Linked DNA regions of Homo sapiens. Changing the gene in region 1 together with any one later gene gives a genetic interaction. Each region holds a gene or a part of one and is shown on either strand. Other genes may lie near its edges. The genes, in order: SETD1B, GEMIN5, RTF1 and HAPSTR1.

Region 1 (4,446 bases):
AGAAAGAAAGAAAGAAAGAAAGAAAGAAAGAAAGAAAGAAAAGAAAGAAAGAAAAAGCCCTGGCGCGGTGGCTTACACCTATAATCCCAGCACTTTGGGAGGCCGAGGAGGGCACATCCCCTGAGGTCAGGAGTTCGAGACCAGCATGCTTAACATGGAGAAATCCCATCTCTACTAAAAATACAAAATTAGCTGGGCTTGGTGGCACATGCCTGTAATCCTAGTAATCCCTGTAATCCCTACTCAGGAAGCTGAGGCAGGAGAATTGCTTGAACTCGGCAGGTGGAGGTTGCAGTGAGCCGAGATTGTACCATTGCACTCTAGCCTGGGCAACAAGAGCAAAACTCTGTCTCAAGAAAAAAAAAAAGAAAAGAAATTTTTAAAATTAGCTGGTATGGTAAAGTGTGCCTATGGCCCTGATCAGCTTAGGAGGTTGAAGTGGGGGGATCATTGAGCTCAGCAGATCGAGGCTGCAGTGAGCTATGATCATGCCACTGCACTCCAGCCTGGGTGACAGAACTAGACCTTGTCTCTAAAATAAATAATAAAGGTAAAATTGTATATTCCTTCAGCTACACCCCCTTCTCTTAGCTTTATTCCTCCTTACTATTGCACTTACTTTTCACATTTGTCTGGCTCGCCCTCAAGAACAGTATGTTTCCTTCATTCCTATCCCCAGAGCCTAGAAGAGTACCTGGCACATACAAGGTGCTCAATAAATATTGGTTGATTGAATTAATGGCCAGACACTTCCTTCTCTTTCCTGGCTCAGCCCGGACCTCAGCCCTCTATTCCCATGAATCCACTTACGGGAGTGTCCACCTGTCTGGATGCACAATTCCTAAAAGCAGCCCACTGTGAACGGACAATTTACTCTCCCTTCGTTTCGTTGATACCAGAAATGAGGCTGCGAAGAACACTCTTCTTCATATTGTTGCCCACTGTATCTGTCAGGCTCAATTCCTCACAGTGGAACAACGGAGCCAAGACTTTTGTGTGCATTTGATCATTTTATTTTGAGACGAGGTCTCACTCTGTCGCCCAGGCTGGAGTGCAGTGGCATGATCTCGGCTCCCTGCAACCTCCACCTTCTGGGTTCAAGCGATTCTCCCACCTCAGCCTCCCAAGTATCTGGGATTACAGGCGTGCACCACCACACTCGGCTAATTTTTTTGTATTTTTAATAGAGATGGGGTTTTACCATGTTGGCTAGGCTAGCTCGAACTCCTGACCTCAGGTGATCTGCCCTCCTAGGCCTCCCAAAGTGCTGGGATCACAGGCGTGAGCCACCGTGCCGGCCGTGTGCATTTTAAATAATGATTACTAATAGGTATTTTTCCTCCTAAAGGTTGCAGTGATTTTTGGCTTCCCCTAATGACACACGAGAGTACCCCAGCCTCCTGCTCCCTCAAATTGGGTTTCCTCCACCTTTTAATATTTGCCAACCTGACAGGGGGAAACGGCATCCTGGGATAATTCACATTTCTCCAGTAGGAAGTGACGTACAGCGTCTTTTCAGGCATATTGCTTTTTGCTAAGGTTTTACGTCTTCTTGGAGACATTTACCGTGGACGCCAACTATAAGCCCTTTATCACCCGTCTACTGGGTCAAGCAGAGCTGAGACTGACTGGGGCACAGCATCTCTGAAATGCCATGAATACAGGATAGATTTAATTCTTCTCAACTTCTACTATTTTATCAGCCCTTTTTCCTCCCTCAAATGCAGACCAGGGGGGCATCTCCTTAAGTGTTAAACATTTCTGAGGAACCACCTACGTTCTTCTAGTGATAGTAAAAGGATACCTGATCTTATTTCCTTCATTGCAGACCTCATGAGTCAGAAACCTGAGGTTTTAAGAAAAAAATCTAGAAATCACACTTAAAAGCTGTGGAAGGTCTAGTGGTGACTATAATTTGGCCCATTTCACAAAACCCACCTACAAGTTCAGGCTGGGCACGGTGGCTCACATCTGTAATCCCACTACTTTGGGAGGCTGAGGTGGGAGGATTGCTTGAGCCCAGGAGTTTGAAACCAGCCTGGGCAACATAGGGAGACCCCGTCTCTACAGAAAAATTTCTTAAAAATTAGCTGGGCATGGTGGTGTGCTCCTGTAGTCCCAGCTACTCAGGAGGCTGAGGTGGGAGGATCACTTGAGCCCAGGAAGTCAAGGCTGCAGTGAGCCATGATTGCACCACTGCACTCCAGCCTGAGGTGACAGAGTGAGACCCTGTCTCAAAAACAAACAAAAAAACCCCTGCTGATCTGAGTGTCTGAGTGGACCACTCCACCCTCCACAGAAGCAGGATGTGCTCCCAACAGAAAGAAAGAATAAAGAGGAGAGGGAGAGAGGAGAGCAAGAGAGACGGCGTATCTGTAAGAAAAGTCAGTATATTTATGGTTTGCTTTATAAAAGTTACTATAATACAATGGTACATAGTATTGAATTCACAAAAATATGAACAAATATTTACATCAAGACACACAACGGAAACACTTCTCTTCAAAACAAGTTACATATGGATGATGGAGTCTACCCGCACAAACATCCCTAAAACTCATTGGTTCTCATCTTTGCAGGGGGAGGGAGAGAAAGCAAAAAATAGCAGAAACCCCCAACTCTTGAAAAGCAGAGATTTGTTCAATGAAAAATGAGGGAGTTGAAAGAAAAATGACTCGACACATATCTTGATTATTGCAAACCACTCTGGGGCTGGGGCTCCTGGGGAGAGGGAGGTCTAGTCCCCTTAGTGAAGGCCAGCCGAGGTTAACACTGGGCACGATGGCTGGGAGCAAGGTGAGGCCAGGGGGAGGGGTGAGGCAAGGGTCCCTTCCCTGGTCTTCTCGAACACCCCCACTTCTTTTATGGGAAGGGGACAGAATGGAGACAGCCCTTTGGAGGCTGTACATGTAACTTGAATCAGCCGTCTCTACAAGCTACGCATTTCCTCATGTGAAAAATAAATTATTTCCTCAGTTGCACAATTAGGCAGAAAACCGCAAACGGAAGAGAAGTTCGCCGCTGTGCCCAGGTACCCCATCTGTGTCTTGTTGCCACCAATTTCCTTGATCTTGAAACCGGCGGGCACAGTCTCAAATAGAGAGGGCCTGGGGGAAAGGAATAAAAAAAAAACAACAAAAAACACACAACAAAACCACCAACAACAAAAAAGAGAAAAATAACAATTCTTTGTACAGAATTTACATGATAACAAGCTTGACACAAGCTGAGATACCAGAGGCTCCGGCCGCCTGCGTCCGCAGGGTGGGAGCAGCTCCCTCATGGAGCGCGCTCATCTTGATGAGGACTCCGGGTCACAACAGTCACTTTCCAGAAATTATTTACACGCCTCCTCTGCTTTCTGGGGTACGGGGGGACTTGCTTTTGTCTTTTTTTTCCTTTTTTTTTGGAAGTACAAAGAAATGAGCAAAAAATGTCTTCCCGCATGTTTCTACAAGAAACAATGTTCCCAAGAGAAAGTCCTTTGCGGCAGCCTCTATATACAGAAGTTGGTTCTGAACTTCAAAAACCTTTTTCCCCTTCCTTTTGATTTTATACACGCACAAGAAAAAAAAAAGCCATGGGAATAAATTCTGAAGAGATGGGAAGGGGGTCAAAAGGGAAAAAAAAACCGTCAAGGCTTAGATTTGTGTTTTTAAATCTTTTCCAAGATTTTCCTTTCTCTGGGAGAAGTAATCTGCTCCCTCCGAAAATAAATATGCTCTGGCCTTCTTAGGTTGAGGGGCTGCCGGCAGGGGGATGTGGGGTGTGGGTTGGGGGTGAGTGGGTGAAGCTTATAAGCCAAAAAATGCCACACGCAGACGGTCTGACAACCCGTAATGGCGGGACTGGGGGACCCGCCTGCCCTTGGGAGCCCTGTCCCACCCAGGGCGAAGGCAAGGGCAGAAGAGAGTGGCTGCCCGCGTTCTCAGCGCCCCTCACCTGCACTGGGGCCTCCGAGAGGCTCCCGCGTTGCTGGCATCCGAATGAGAAAGTAAACATTGAACCCAAGGTTTAGGGGGTGCTGGGGTGTGAGGTGGCAGGGAAAGCCCAGAGCGGAGACCCCTGCCTGGGACAGCTTAGCTCCATCAGGGTCCACCGGGTCAGTGGTGCCCCAGGCCTCTGGGGAAGGAACAGGCTGCAGCTCGGGTGGGGAAAGGTGTGGGGTCTCCTCACTGTGCCCACGGGCAGTGAGGGGCGCTTTCAGGGCGTAGTGTTCTGAGGTCAAGGCCGTGGGGGCCTCCATCCTTCCCACAGCACCTGGCCCTGCGTCCAGGTCCGGGTGGCTTCCAGGACACGGGCCACGCACAGCCACACTGAGGCCTCTGCAGACCCCCGCGGGGCCCCTCTCTGATTCCACCTTCACATTTCAACGGTTAAATGTCTTTTCTCACAACGAGGAAAAAAATAGAGAAGACAAAACAACGTAGCAGCATTCACAGGAAG
Region 2 (5,372 bases), on another chromosome or scaffold:
ATCTGAAAAGGCTCCTCTGTGTATGGTCCTAGGAGGGGCTGTAAGACAGGACAAACTGTCCCTTTTGTGTTGTCTTATTGTTCCAACTTCCTTTAAAAACTGCACTTGCATTATATAGACAAATTAGAAACATATGCTGCATTCGTTTCTTCACTTAGATCAGCAGTTCTTAAATTGTGGTCTGTGGATTCCTAGGGGGTCCTCAAGAACCTTTCAGAGGGTTCATGAGGTTAAAACTATTTTCGTAACAATGCTAAGAGTCAGTTATGTGCTTTTTTATTAAAAAAAAAAAAATGTGTTGACATTTGCACTGATTGTGCCAAAGCAGTGATTGGGAAACCTGGCATCTAAGAAGGAAGGCGGTGGCTCTTACAGTGGAAAAAAAGGAAGAATGCCCTTAATGAAGCAGTAAAAATTACAAATTTTACTAAATCCGTCAAGTCCAAAACACTTTAATATTCTGTGTGACAAATGGGAAGAACATTTTGTGTTCTCTGCTGCATTCCAAAGTAGAATGGTTGTCTCTAGGTAACACCTGTATGAACAAATTACAAGCTAAACTGGCTGCTTTTTCATAGAACCTTCTTTCTTCTAAAAAAAAAAAAAATGACTAACATAAATAACAGTTATTCAGTGTTGGGTATTTGGCAGATGTTTTTCTCAAAAATGAACAAAGTAGGCCTATCACTTCATTAAAAACAACCAACAGTATTTGTTACTAATGATAAAATGCGAGTTTTCTAGCAAAAATTAGAATTTTAGAAAACTTGTACCTACCACTTGTGTGCCTGAGTTTCCCATAAGTTAGAATTTTCTGATGAGACTGATGGTGATAGTAAGGAATGTGGTATTTTTGGGTATTTTATAATAAGATATGTTAACATTTGGAAGATCTGAACAACTCAGTAAACAAATATTTTTCAAATGACATACAACTGCTGAGTTGTAGCCAACATAAAGTTGTAGCTGGGAAAAAAGTGTTTTATTAGATTAAAGTGATCTAGAGAGAGCAATATTTTGAAAGTATTTTGGGACTTCTACTTCCAGCCATGATGGAGTAACTGGGACCAGACTTACCTTTCTGCCATAAAACTAAAAAACTGGACAAAATGGCTGAAACAACTGTTTTTAGATACCAGGTAACAGGCAGCATAGGATGGTCAGCCCTAAGAGAACAGAAACAAATGATGGGAGCCCTATCTTGGCACTGGCTTTCTGCCCAAAGCCATTTTCCTAAGGAAAACCTGAGCAAAACCTCAGCAGTCTCTGAGTTGAGAAGAGGAAACAATGGAAATCTGAGGGGCAGGATACTAGGAAGGAGGAAGCTGTCCAGAGAAAGACATCCACAACTCTGCCTGGAGATCCCATTGAGTCTTTGGCTAAATTAAAAGCCACGTATGTAAAGGAAACTCCTTAAGTCTAAACAAAGAATGACTAGGTAACTGTAAGCTGAACAATTCCCAGAGCTTACTCAGGACTTGGAGACATCTGAGTTTTGATTTGTTGAATGCATAAGGCATTCAAGAAAGATATCAAAATGTAGGAGGTAATTCTAGAATATGATAAACTTGCCCTAACGAAGTTTAAAAACAAGCCATGAAAAGATCAAGCTGATACACAACTTTACTACTTACCAAAACAAAGTTTAACACTCTCTAAAGGAAGATAACAAAACCAAAGCAGGGTAGAACAAAAAGAAAATCTTGGCCAAGCATGGTGGCTCATGCCTGTAATCCCAGCACTTTGGGAGGCTGAGGCACGAGGATCGCTTGAGCCCAGGAGTTGGCAATCAGCTTGGACAACACAGCAAGACTCCGTCTCTACAAAAAACTAAAAAATTAGTTGGATGTGGTGGCATGCACCTCCTGAGTAGTCCCAGTTACTCAGGGGGCTGAAGCAGGAGGACTGTTTCTTCTATTTATGTTACTTTAACAATAGAGAAGTTTAGGTTATTTTCACATTATGTCCAAGTATTATCCCAACTCTAGGACCACACAGACCTGTAAAAATGGTTTGACTTGAGCAGCTCCACCGCTTCATACACTTTGTGGATGGAAAGTAGGTGAGAAGCAGCCTTGACATACTGATCCTGAAAACACAGCTGTTTGGCAAAAGCTTCCACAGCCCATAGCCACACATGGTAGCCAGCTGAAAAAATAAAAGATGGTGGTTAAAAAAACAGTTGAAGAAAAAGTAAAAACAATACCCAGTACATTTGGGTTGAAAAAGCCTTGTTTTCGTCAATGCATTCAGCAGAACATTTAGATACCAATTCAGCTGCCATTATGGATCATCTGCTTCATCTACACATTCTGAAGCATCAATTGTTTGATTATGTAACACAAACAAAACAGTACAAAGTTGAAAAGATACAGAAAGGAATGTGTGAGCACAGTTAAATTCCTATAATCATAACTGATGAGCCAAAGGTAACATGACTACGTGCTTTTTTTTTTTCCCTTTCCTTTTATTGTTTTTTGAGACAGGGTCTCACTCTGTGGCTCAGGCTGGAGCGCAGTAGCACAATAATGGCTCACTGCAGCCTTAACCTCCCCGGGCTCAGGTGATCCTCCCACCACAGCCTCCCGAGTAGCGGGGACTACAGGTACATGTCACCATGCCCAGATAATTTTTTAATTTTTTTGTAGAGATGGGCTTTTGCCATGTTGCCTAGGCTGGTCTCAAACTCCTGGGATCAAGTGACCTGCCCACCTCGGCCTCCCGAAATGCTGGTATTACAGGCATGAATCAGGAATCACCACACCCAGCCTTTTTTTTTTTTAAAGAGACAAGGTCTCATGATGTTGCCCAGACTAGAATACACTGGCTATTCACAGGCACAATTAACAGAGCGCTATAGGTCTGAACGCCTAGCCTTAAGCAATCCTCCTGCCTCAGCCTCCTGAGCAGCTGGGGACTACAGACTTGTGCCATTATATCTTTTAAAATTTACTAGACATGGCCAAATTGTCCTTCAAGAAGTTCTCACCAATTATGCTTTTGCCAATTAAAGTGTCAGTGACCTGCTTTTTTTCAAAGGGGTTGGGTTGGATTTATTAGTTTGTCTATTGCTGTCTATTGCTTTGTATCTATTTGTAAGTGATTTCAAGCTTAAGACTGTGCTAAGAGCCATCTTTAGTGGACGTATCCTAGAGATGATAGAGCTTTTGTTGAAAAGAACAAACAAACAAAAACCATACCTGCTGGTGCCATAGCCACAAGGTTGTCTGTCAGCTCCCCTCTTTCTGCTGCAGTCTGGAGAACACCTTTGAGATCTCCTTTCCAAAGCATAAGCTGGTGAAATAACTCAGGGTGGCCATTTTCTAAGTGACCTTTTCCTGTTTGAAAGAGAGATAATGTTTGGAAGGTGTTTCAGAAACATCTGTTACTGACTTGTAGGAAAAGAAAGGCAAGATAGAAGAGAAAGTGAGCTCCTAAAATATGCAGTCATTCTCTGATGGGTGTCACCTACCAGAGTGATTACAGTAAGATCTGAAGCCCACTTGGTCACTGTACACTCCCACACCTTCACATGTACTCAGAGTGAATGCTGTATGTTTAGGATCCTATGATGATGCAAGGGTTGTATCAATATGTAAATCAGGGAGCTCAAAACCTAGTTAGCTGACACGTAAAACTAACCATTATAATATCACAGGATGACAGCCATCAAAGAGGTGCACACAAAATGTTGGGAAAGTATAAAGATGGATGAGATTATGTTGACTGGATTTGTCTCACCTTCAATATCAATCATTCTATACAGGGTAGCCCTGTCTGTGAAAAGCCCCAGATGAAATCTTTCCTCAACATCAGCAGACACATCTTCATTCAGCTCTGTTAATTTAAAAAGGCAAAAAAATCAGATGAAGTCATTACATTGATTACAGTTTTCTCTCCAATAACTTCCGAATATATGTTTGGAACACCCACTTCAGACACTGAGAGAATCAGAGCTCTAACAGAGACTCCTGCAGTTACAAAGGGAGCAAAACACAAAAACACTTAAAATGTTAAAAGTGAACCCCAAATCAGAACATATTTAAGTGCAGTAAAAAACAAGCAAAACAATATTAATAAGCAAAAGAAAGTCCTTAATATTCACTGGGACTTACCACAAGGGGATTCAATATTCATCCTTTGCTTCAAAAAAAAAGTCAACTGAGTAATTTTCCAGTAAGGAAAATAATGTGAAACTAGGTTAACTATGTAAGTTATAGGAAGTCATCACAAAGCTCCAAAAAGGCTATGTATATAATAAAAGCATAAAACATCTCCATCAAGACACAAGAAACTGATAATAGTTTGATTATGCAATACAGACAAAACAGTTCAAAAATTCAAAAGAAAGAAACAAATGGAAGCCCAGGATAGTGACTACCCTTGTTAGGGTAGTGGGAGACAGTAACCGGGAGGGAGGATGGTCCTCCATTCCTGGGGAGGAGAAACAGAGGACTGGGAGGAAGATTTACTTTGAAAAAAAAATTAAAAAAAAATTTTTTTTTTTAAATAGAGAGAGGGTCTCACTATGTTGCCCAGGCTGGCCTTAAAGTGAGCTCAAGTGATCCTTCTGCTTCAGCCCCTTAAGCATCAATTTTATTTATTATGTGCATCCCTTTTCCACATGTAAACTTCAAATTTAAAAAATAAAGTTATTAAAATATCAAAATAGTGGACATTAAATGAAGACTTTGAAAAACAAAAATAAAACAACCCTTCAAAACAAAACTTACAAAGCAAAAGCTTCCATCAAATTTTTTTCTAAAAAAATGCCATATTATGAGCATATTTCCAATAAGAAAAAAAGATTTTTTTCTCCATAGGATACTGTTCAATGGGGAAAAGAGTTGAAGGAGTTTATTCATGCTGAGATACTTAGGCCAACATACCAATTCTGGCACACAGATGGCTGGGAGGAATTAGATTTAGAATAAAAGCAGAGCGCTACATTTCAAAGCCATGGCAGTGCTGACGGTGGGTCACAATGGGGAGTTTGGCAGCAAGGTGTAGGGGTATAGGGATGTGGAGGGAAGGGAGAGCTGGAGAACATAAAAATACAGAAAACAATTTAGACATTTCTTTGGGCATTCATTTAATAAATAAGTAAACATCCCTTATATACCAGTCCCGGAAGACTATGGATGGGCCAAGGAAGTACATTTTTGTACCTCTGGAGTGCTTTGCAGTTGCTAGTACCAAACAGTCCTGATGAAGCTCCTCTTTGGATCTGTGGTCCAGGCTTGTACTCAGGGGAAGCAAGGAACGAGCTTTTCTCTTCTTGATTAAGGTTTCTGAAATTTAATAAAGTACATACTATCTGAAGGAGAACTGATCAGAAACATAAAACGGAATGCCTATTGTGTGAATGTAAC
Region 3 (5,372 bases), on another chromosome or scaffold:
ATGTTTACCTAGGTTTTCTCAACAAGAAAATGAATTCATCCTTGAAAAAGAACTGGAAATGGAAGAGGACTCAAATACACAGCTCCGTCCTCTCTAGACTGGATTGTGCTAACTTGGGGTATATACAGAAATGAGTTAAAACACAGAGTTAAAATTATTCAGGTGCCAAATGTCAGGCCCCAGCAGATGAAAAAAGGGCTGGAAGATTGATACTAGGTGGGCAGAAAGGGTCACCAACACTACTGACAGTTCTCTTTTATGGCACTCAAGACACTTGACTATGGGGAGGAAAGAGGGGGAAAGACTCATGATGACTTCAGAAGCTTCTGAGGAAAATTTAAAATAGGAGAGTGGCTAAATCACCACTGGTACATCTACCAATGAACTACTATGCAGCTATAAAAAAGGAACGTGGGGACGGGTGCGGTGGCTTACGCCTGTAATCTCAGCACTTTGGGAGGCAGAGGCAGGTGGATCACTTGAGGTCAGGAGTTCGAGACCAGCTTGGTCAACATGGTGAAACTCTGTCTCTACTAAAATACAAAAATTAGCCAGGCATTGTGGCCGGCACCTGTTATCCCAGCTACTTGGGAGGCTGAGGCAGGAGAATCGCTTGAACCCGGGAGGCGGAGGTTGCAGTGAGCCAAGACTGTATACCACTGCACTCCAGCCTGGGCAACAGAGCGAGACTCCATCTCAAAAAAAAAAAAAGGAACGTGGCCAGGCATGGTGACTCATGCCTGTAATCCCAGCACTTTGGGAGGTCGAGGTGGGTAGATCACTTGAGCTCAGGGGTTTGGGACCAGCCTGGGCAACATGGTGAATCTGCATCTCTACCAAAAATACAAAAAACAAACCAGGAGTGGTGGCTAAAAAAAAAAGAGAGAGAAAACTGTGTATAATATGCTACCATTAATCTAAGATGGCAGGTTAATCTGTGTACTTACGATTTAAAAAGAAAAAAGAATAATATAAAAAAATTTTAGGCTGGGAGTGTTGGCTCATGCACTTTGGGAGGCCAAGGCAAGGCGGATCACTTAAGGTCAGGAGTTCAAGACCACCCTGGCCAACATGGCTAAACCCCATCTCTACTAAAAATACAAAACAAAATTAGGTGGTGGTGCACGCATGTAGTCTCAGCTACTCAAGAGGCTGAGGTGGGAGAATCGCTTGAACCCGGGAGGTGAAGGTTGCAATGAGCCGAGATCGCGCCACTGCACTCCAGACTGAGTAACAGAGAGAGATCCTGTCTCAAAAAAGAGAGAGAGAAAAAGATGGATGGAAGGAAGGAAAAATAACTGCAATGGATTAAAACACATAAAGCACGTTAAAAATGATGAGTTCACAAGGATATTCAAAATAAATAAAACCCATCAGTCATCTTTGGAAGTTGCTAAAAACTATCTCTCTCTCTCTCTTTAAAATATTGCAGAAACAGGGTCTCACTATGTTGCCCAGGCTGGTCTTGAATTACACATGTGAGCCACTGTACCTTGCCAGGAACTATCTCATTCTTTCAAAAACTGGTAAACGAAAGGAAAATTAATCAAGCATTTATCTTGCCTTTCCTGTTCAAAATGTGCCTGGGGGGTAACTAAATAGCTGATTAGAAGTTTCTCTTTAGGCCGGGTGCGGTGGCTCACACCTGTAATCCCAGCACTTTGGGAGGCCGAGGCGGGCGGATCACAAGGTCAGGAGATCAAGACCATCCTGGCTAACATGGTGAAACCCCTTCTCTACTAAAAATACAAAAAATTAGCTGGGCGTGGTGGCAGGTGCCTGTAGTCCCAGCTACTCAGGAGGCTGAGGCAGGAGAATGGTGTGAACCCAGGAGGCGGAGCTTGCAGTGAGCCGAGATCGCGCCACTGCACTCCAACCTGGGCGACAGAGCGAGACTCCGTCTCAAAAAAAAAAGGTTTCTCTTTATAGAAGCAGGCTAGATAATGAATGAGGAAAGAATGACAGATTCGAAATATCACCATTTTGCAACTCCTAATGAATTAAATTATCTAGGTAATGACCATCAGTGGCTACTAGGACAGAACACGTTATTATTTCTTTTTCTTTTTTTTTGAGACAGAGTCTCACTCTTGTTGCCCAGGCTGGAGTGCAATGGTAGGATCTTGGCTCACTGCAACCTCCACCTCCCGGGTTCAAGTGATTTTCAGTGCCTCAGCCCCACAAGTAGCTGGGATTACAGGCATGTGCTACCACGCCTGACTAATTTTTGTACTTTTAGTAGAGACGGGATTTCACTCTGTTGGCCAGGCTGGTCTCCAACTCCAGACCTCACGTGATCTGCCTGCTCTGACCTCACAAAGTGCTGGGATTACAGGTGTGAGCCACCGTGCCTGGCCTGGCTAATTTTATTATTTTTAGTAGAGATGGGCTTGCACCATGTTGGCCAGGCCGGTCTTGAACTCCTGGCCTCAAGCAATCCTCCAGCCTCAGCCTCCCGAAGTGCTGGGATTACAAGCGTGAGCCACTACACTCAGCCCCACATTATCTTTTGTTGTTTTTTTTTTAAGATTGAGTCTCACTCTGTTGTCCAGGCTGGAGCGCAGTGGCGGAATCTCAGCTCACTGCAACCTCCGTCTCCCGGGTTCAAGGGATTCTCCTGCCTCAGCCTCCTGAGGAGCTGGGATTACAGGCATGCACAACCATGGCCAGCTAATTTTTGTATTTTTTGTAGAGATGGGGTTTCACCATGTTTGCCAGGCTGGTCTCAAGCTCCTGACCTCAGGTGATCCGCCCACCTTGGCCTCCCAAAGTGCTAGGATTACAATTGTGAGGCACCACGACCGGCCCCCACAGTATCCTTTCTAATTCTTCACCCATCTCTATACCCATGTCCTTTGCTATATGCCTTAGTCATTCTTCCCGGCCCCATAGTGACACTATGCCAATTCCAAGTCTAGGCCCTAAGAGGCATGTGTGTCTTTGCTTGCCCCTTTTATACTTCTGTCATCACCATATAAAAGTGCTCGGGGTTTACTGGCCCAGGGAGGAAGAGAGAGGTAGAACAGACCTGGCTACCACCTATAGCTTGGAGATAATTCCAGCTGAACTCATGCCATCAGGAGGGTGAATTGCAGTTGAACTTCAGATGCATGAGCAGAACAGGGGTTAGTTTGTTACTTCACATTATTGTGGTAAGAGCTAACTGACAGGATTGTTAACATCACAAACTGAGAGACAGTCAGATATCATGTGTCTCCTGATGGAAATACATACCACTACCTAAAAATCAGCCTTCCCCAAGAACAAGCAACAATGACAACAACAGAACAAACCCAAATCTGACCAATTCTGTAGCTCTAACTAACCATTTACAGGAAACCCAAGGGACCAGAAACACATTCAACAACAAAAACGAGATGTAGTCAGCAATGTGAGAAACCAGAAGACAAATGACCCAGTTCCTTCAGCAAATAACGCTGCAAGGCAGGGCAAAGAGATGGGGAAGAAAACATACAGATTAAATGCCTTAAGGGACGTATTAACAGATCACAATGTATGGACTTTAAGATCCTGATTCAAGTGGTCTTGTTTTTTAAATTACAAAACAAATAGAAATGTTTTTAAAATCTTGTTTTTTAAATTACAAAACAAATAGAAAAATTTGAACACTGACTAGATATTTGACAAAGAGTTCATTGTTATTTCTAGGTGTAATAATGGTATTATAGTTAGGTTTAAAACAAAAGTACTTATCTTTTAGAGGAACATACTGAAATATTTATGGTTAAAATATAATAATGCTGGTATTTGCTTTAAAATAATCTGATGAAAGGATTATAGATTTAACAAGACTGGCCAAGAGCTGACTGCTGTGGCTGGATGATGGGTTTGTGGATGTTTATACTATTCTGGGTATGTGCTGGAATTTTATATGAGAAAGATATAACAAGAGGGCAAAATGAAAATGGACACCAGGAAGTCAAATCATATAAAGACACAAGTAGCCATTATATTTCCCTCGCTTACCTGTTCTGTTCTTTCGTTTTTCTCGCTCTGCTTTTAGCTCCTCCATGGCTTGAGATTTCTTGTCTAGTTTCTCATCCCGCTTGGAACGCCGTTCCTTGTTGTGGGATGTTACCTAGGAAGGGAAGGATATATAGAATGGCCCTTTTTACCAACAGCTGATAAGATTCTCTAAACCTACTTAATGCATTTAGTCCTCCAACATCAATCTATATGGGCTGCAAAAACTTAGAGCTTTTATGTAAGGGGAGAGAGCATCCTCTTGTGGACAAAGAGGATAGCGCAGTAAAGTAAGCCCTGTCTAAAATGCCTATTCCAAGTTCAAGAATTATCCGAATAAACTCTTTCTGGAAGAACACACTACAACACAGCTAATGTTGGGATTACAGGCATAAGCCACTACACTCAGCCCCACATTATCTTTTTTTGTTGTTTTTCTGAGATGGAGTCTCATTTATGATAAATACAGAGATTATTTTCCCAGCTATATTTATACCAAGTAAAGGATGATATACATCTAAGTAAACATCATAAGCATCTGGCTACCTAGGACAGGTTGTTTACCAACTTTTCCTTAAGGGATGGTCACTCACTAGTGGGCTGCTTTTTTTTTTTAAAACAGAGCCTCGCTCTTCTGCCCAGGCTGGAGGGCCATGGCATGATCTCAGCTCACTGCAACCTCCGCTTCTGAGGTTCAAGCAATTCTTGTGCCTCAGCCCCCCGAGTAGCTGGGATTAAAGGCATAAGCCACCACGCCAGGCTAATTTTTGTATTTTTAGTAGAGACAGGATTTCGCCACGTTGGCCAGGCTGGTCTCAAACTCCTGGCCTTGAGTGATCTGTCTGCCTCGGCCTCTCAAAGTGCTGGGATTACACATGTGAGTCACTGCAGTTGAGGGCTGCTTTTTAAATGCAGACTTCAGTGAAAGCCGGGCACGGTAGCATATGCCTGTAGTCTCAGCAACTCAGGAGGACTGCTTGAGACTAGGAGTTTGAGGCTTCAGTGTGTTATGACTGTGCCAGTGAATAGCCACTGTATTCTAGCCCGGGCAACATAATGAGACCAGGGAAAGGGAAGAGGAAGGGAAGGAGGAAGGGAAGGGGGAAGGAGGAAGGGAGGGGAAGAAAAGGGAAAAAGAAAGAAGAAAGAAAAAAGAAAAGGAAAAAGGAAAGCAAAGGAAAAAGTGCTAAGGATTTAACAGCACAGCTAATGGTGATATGTCCAGAGATTAATGAAACCATGTCACAAGTCTTATAAACTTAGGCTGATTAATATAAATCCACCTTTTACACACACACACACACACACACACACACACACACTCAAAACAGGTTTATTCTTTGGACAATGAGGAACACTGAATCTCCTACCTGAGATTCTTGAATCTG
Region 4 (5,118 bases), on another chromosome or scaffold:
ATTGAAGAATCTGACTGCAGGTCTTTAGATTCAGCCAAATGCTTTCCAACAATTTTGCTCTAAAAAATATTAAACATTTTAATACTTCAGCCATGCTCAGAACGCTGCAGTCTAAGGATGAACTTCAACTTGCCCATGCCAAGTTAGGGCGACAGGAGCAGAACTAAGGAGCTATGACGTCTAAAAGAATCAGAGAATCTGGCTTAAGACGAAGAGAGCTTCTGTTCCCCAAAACTAAACTGTCTAGTTTTTAAATCCACCCTTAACCGTTCAAGAAACTGAAAAAGTCAACTTGTTTTTAAAATACCACACAGGTATGCAATCTTCCATGATTTGTTTTGCATCTCAGCTAGCACAGGGAAACCCTTGAAAAACCTAGCTGTCAGAAGTTTTTCCTGAGGGAAATCATTACGCTTCTACTGCTGAGCTTCATGTTTATTCTGTGCGTCGGGGAAAGGAGAAAGCAATGGGACAGAGAAGGGAAAAGTTGCGACTGGGTGACAAATTCATTAGGTGCATTTGAAAGTAAACGCAATGGAAAAAAGTAACAAATGCTAAAGTTTTCTAAAAGTTTAATGAAGCCAATAAGGCATATAAATTGTGTTCTGGCAGACATTAAGACCTGCTTTCTCTTACCAAAGAAAATGGCACGTTTTATCAAAATTTGACAATTCAGAGTAAAGGGTACTGAGATTAAGCTTCAGAGCACCAACTTAAACAAAACAACCAAAAAATTGTTATCCAACGTGGAAAGAGGAGCAAGAACCAAGGCATAAAGGGGAATTAAATATGTGTTCCTCCATCTCAAAATCCTTTTAGGAATAGGAGTTCTGGCCACTTGTGAGCAACACATTGCACCACCAAACCCCAATTCCAGAATCTAAATTTACGATAGAAAAACAAAGGTAACTCCAAACGCATGTCTTGTATATTCCAAAGGGAAGCTTGAAAGTATTCATAATACATAGGCTTGTCTGTTTCAGGTAAAATGACAGATTGCTATAATTCTTCCTGCTATTATAGTCAAACAAAAAATGACCCACTTTCGCAAAAGTTTAGAAATCTCTCACTTTCATTCCTAGTTTTAGTATGGAATTCACTTTTTTAAATAAGGGCTACATCTATAATGAATACAGAACTTCAATTCACACAACATTTCTAACATTCCATTCACATCCCACCCAGTCAATGAATGAACATTTATGGTTAACTCAGCAAAGTTTCTTCACAGAAAGATATTATTAAATGGCTGAAGAAATTGCAAACTTTAACAAAGTGCTGTGAGTAATTACTGGAAAAACCCTTACACTGATTTGCAATGGTCTTTTAAGGATAAAAATAGGAAGTAACTGATACTGGACTACAAGTTTGCAAGGAAACATTTTTCACTGTCCTACTTGATATATAATATAATAATATGATAGAATAAATTACAGTACCTGGCAGGCTGACATCAGTTCTTCATCTAAAAAAACACTATCATTCAGTTCAGGATATTAAAAATGAAGATGAAACATGCTCTAAAACATTGTAGCTACAAGAGGTCTTATATTTACTCAAAAGAGGAATCTATTGAGAACTTTTTATTTAGGTCTACCTAACAGCTAGAGAATCTCCATGCGATTCCATCTTTTCCAGAATGAGATTCCAAACTGAACTTTTTAGGAGAGGGATTGGAGGGACAGGGAGAGTTGGGTTTTGCTATTTTAAGTTGCAATCACATTATTAGTAGATAAAAAAGAGAGCTTTATCATCTTCCACCCATTCCAATGGAAACTGCACTAAGCAGGGACTCCATGAAAAATGTAAAATGATAGACTAGAAAACCTACCCCACCATCCATCTCCCTCTCCCTCTCACTAATACTGAACCAAAAAGGAAGCCCATTCTCAAAGTTCATGACCTCTCTACTTTAGGTCACCTCGAATGCAGTCTACATGTTTACATTTACCATAAGGAAAGTACCCCGCATGGGAAGTAGTGTTTGTCTTAAAACTGAGTACTTTAGGCCTACAGGGTTACTCTGGGGACAGTTTAATAATAATACTGCTACTTTAGAGCACTAACACACACAAAGTGAATCCAATAAAGCTCTGGGCATTGATTCAATATTTAGTATTAATTGCATGACCATCATAGCACCTCTTTACATCACACAATCACCAGAATTAGAAATTGATTTGAAAACTAAAAACAGGGCACAGTCCAATAATTAGAATTGCACACTGTTACTATATAGAAACCAGGTGCATGGTACAGTGCAGCTGCAAAAATGGAAGCCAAATCATGTTTTTAGACAATTTTAGGAACCTGGCAATACTGTTGAAGCAAAATACTCAACACAGCAGGAAATGGACCCAAAAAAAAAAAAAGCATTCTATAACCAAATAAACATCTGATATTTCCTTTCCCTTTGAGAATAAATACAGTTAAGGTCACTTTTAGCCTTGGAACGGATATATGTTTGCCTATGATGATCTTGCTAACGACTACACAATATCTGATGTCCTCTGCTAGGATTATAGTTTTAAGAAAGCCATAATTACAAGAGGCATCTACTATAAATACCTAGAACTTCCTTTTATGGCAACCACTATAGAATTCACTTGTCTTAAACAGTGAACAAGGGAAGATGGCCTCATGTTTCCTTTGCAATTATAGTATATGTTGAGGATCAAGTGGCTTTCAAGCAGCATGGTGGGTGTGAAAATGTTTGCAGTTTAGATCATTCTGTTGCGTTTATGGGTTGGTGAGTCTGTAATGACATCGCCACACTGGGCTGAGGTACGCTTTCTAGTTCCACCATTGTCCAAGTGGAGTGCCATTTCTTCTGATATGAAAGTGTTCAAATCGACATCATGGAGTCCATTTCTCCTTCGACTAGCATTCGATCCACTGCTTACATGTGTAGGAGAGCCTGGGGTACTCGAACGCACGCTTATACTAGCCATTGCACCACTAAGACCTAGGAAGAAGAAAAAAGGTTTTAGAGTTGCTCAATTATGTAACCCTTTTGAAAGCAACCCACTTACTTTCCATGTTGTCACAATGTCAAAGCATGTCTGCCTATTTCCTTTATAAGGGATTACTAGTAAGCAATTAAGTTTTATTCTGGATAAACATATCATCTGGCCTTGACATATATTTTATTGGTAATACTACCAATATCTACAATATTGGTAACTACCAATTACTAAAAGTTACTACGTGTCAACCACCGTGCTAGGTGTACAAATATCTCATTAAATTCTCCCATCTATGAGGTAGGTACTGCACAAAATTTACAGATAAGGACAGGAGACATTTGCTTTAAAGACAAGACATTTTTGGTTACCCAAAGTTACCATTCCAACAGACCCCTCTGATGAGTGTGTATGTGTGTGATGTATTCAGGAGAGCCAGAAATCACTTCCAGGCCTAGGTGGGCTTGTTCCAACATCCCCTCTAGATAAGGTGATCACATAACTTGCCATCCAAAACAGATTACTGTTGAGCCCGAAAAGAGTCACTGTTAAAATTTCTACTGGGACATGAGGTACAAAGTCAGTCTACCCTGGACAAATCAGGCTATGTGATCACCTAAGGTCTGGAATGTATTTGGTAGATATCCTTCAGGACAGCCTCAATCATGAGCCTCTCTAATCCTTCATGGAAGTGGGGAGGGGAGAGGGTTGTGAAGAATCCTGCTGCTTTGTTTTCAACATTAAGAGTTACTGAATCCAAGGCCAGGCGCAGTGGCTCACACCTGTAATCCCAGCACTTTGGGAGGCCGGGCAGATCTCTTCAGGTCAGGAGTTCATGACCAGCCTGGCCAACATGGTGAAAACTCGTCTCTACTAAAAAATACAAAAATTAGCCCGGCGTGGTGGCAGGCGCCTGTAATCCCAGCTACTCGGGAGGCTAAGGAGGAGAATCGCTTGAACCCGGGAGGCGGTGGTTGCAAAGAACCGAGACTGCACTCCATCCTGGGTGACAAGAGCGAAACTCCGTCTCAAAAACAAAAGAGTTACTTTACTGAATCCAGAATATACCCAGCACTCATGGATACTTATTCCTTTCCTTAAACTCTTACACAGTTAAAGAGCCAAACTTACATTCCACTCCTAAACATTCAGGATAAACCTGTGAAAGGTATGAGTCAGGCCAGGAAACACCAAACACAGTGTTGCATTTTTAAAAACCTACCGTCACTGGCAGTGATCTTCTGCCTTAGGAATTTCCCCTTCCACTATTCTCTCCTCACCTAGGGATCTGTTATTGCTTGACTATCAATTAATTTTCAAAGAATAGGACTTATAAGATTTTCAAGTAAGCTTAGAGGTTTCATTTGACAGGGGCCCATTCTTTCTAATCATGAACTCCCTAAAAATGTAGTTTAAATTTGAATTTTAAGTTGAAAAGTCTCTGCCTCCTATCACAAATCTATTACATTCCCCTTGGCGTTCCCCTCCATCAAATATTCTCTGAAATGTTCTCAAATCCATGGCCTCCACTATCATCGCACATGCTGACAATGTCCTGAGGGCCACACCTCCCTTCTGAGGTGCTCAACTCCGCACTCTAGGTGCCCCCATTCCTTTCTGCACTGATCCAACCAATCCCCCTGGCTGCTCTCCCTGCAGAAGACACATCCTCCCCTCCTGCTGGTGGTCAGAGGAAATCAAACTGTCCCTCTTCAGCCTCTCAACCTTTCCAAGGCTAGCACCTATTAAAAAATAGAAGCATTAACATGAGAATACTTCCTGTGTCAGGTACTATGTCAATTACTTCCTATGACACCTATAATATCTCCATTCTGCAGGTGAAAACCCAAGTTTAAAAGTTAATTCATCCAAGGTCAACAGGTAGTAAACAAGAGCTGGCACTCCCACCCAAGTGTAATCTATATTCCTATTCAGTTATTCTGATCCTCTTCCAAGCCTAGAGTATTTTAGCAAAAAGGTGGCTTCAGGTTGGTCCTAGGGCCAGCCTGCCTCTTAGGCCTCATCTCTTTGAACAGTTTCTCTCTCTTCCCTTCCTGCTCTCTTCACTTCACCCTTAGACCGTATCCCGACTACCAACATCATGCAATTTGCAGCTCTCTGAAATAGTGAGGCCTGCAACTATCTGTCTCTTCCA

Evidence for each region.
Region 2: changes in SETD1B (region 1) and GEMIN5 together harm fitness more than expected from each alone (negative genetic interaction), as found in Homo sapiens cells (one large-scale study listed by BioGRID).
Region 3: changes in SETD1B (region 1) and RTF1 together harm fitness more than expected from each alone (negative genetic interaction), as found in Homo sapiens cells (one large-scale study listed by BioGRID).
Region 4: changes in SETD1B (region 1) and HAPSTR1 together harm fitness more than expected from each alone (negative genetic interaction), as found in Homo sapiens cells (one large-scale study listed by BioGRID).

The regions. Positions count from the first base shown.
Region 1 is NC_000012.12:121,830,583-121,835,028, reverse strand, and holds the end of SETD1B (histone-lysine N-methyltransferase SETD1B), read right to left. Parts: 3' UTR 2,373-4,446; downstream 1-2,372. UniProt on the Homo sapiens protein: Histone methyltransferase that catalyzes methyl group transfer from S-adenosyl-L-methionine to the epsilon-amino group of 'Lys-4' of histone H3 (H3K4) via a non-processive mechanism.
Region 2 is NC_000005.10:154,899,339-154,904,710, forward strand, and holds part of GEMIN5 (gem-associated protein 5), read right to left. Parts: intron 5,292-5,372; coding exon 5,169-5,291; intron 3,838-5,168; coding exon 3,742-3,837; intron 3,339-3,741; coding exon 3,201-3,338; intron 2,149-3,200; coding exon 2,001-2,148; intron 1-2,000. UniProt on the Homo sapiens protein: The SMN complex catalyzes the assembly of small nuclear ribonucleoproteins (snRNPs), the building blocks of the spliceosome, and thereby plays an important role in the splicing of cellular pre-mRNAs.
Region 3 is NC_000015.10:41,464,868-41,470,239, reverse strand, and holds part of RTF1 (RNA polymerase-associated protein RTF1 homolog), read right to left. Parts: coding exon 5,355-5,372; intron 4,100-5,354; coding exon 3,988-4,099; intron 1-3,987. UniProt on the Homo sapiens protein: Component of the PAF1 complex (PAF1C) which has multiple functions during transcription by RNA polymerase II and is implicated in regulation of development and maintenance of embryonic stem cell pluripotency.
Region 4 is NC_000016.10:9,114,515-9,119,632, reverse strand, and holds part of HAPSTR1 (HUWE1-associated protein modifying stress responses 1), read right to left. Parts: intron 2,966-5,118; coding exon 2,721-2,965; 3' UTR 1-2,720. UniProt on the Homo sapiens protein: Acts as a central player within a network of stress response pathways promoting cellular adaptability. The E3 ligase HUWE1 assists HAPSTR1 in controlling stress signaling and in turn, HUWE1 feeds back to promote the degradation of HAPSTR1.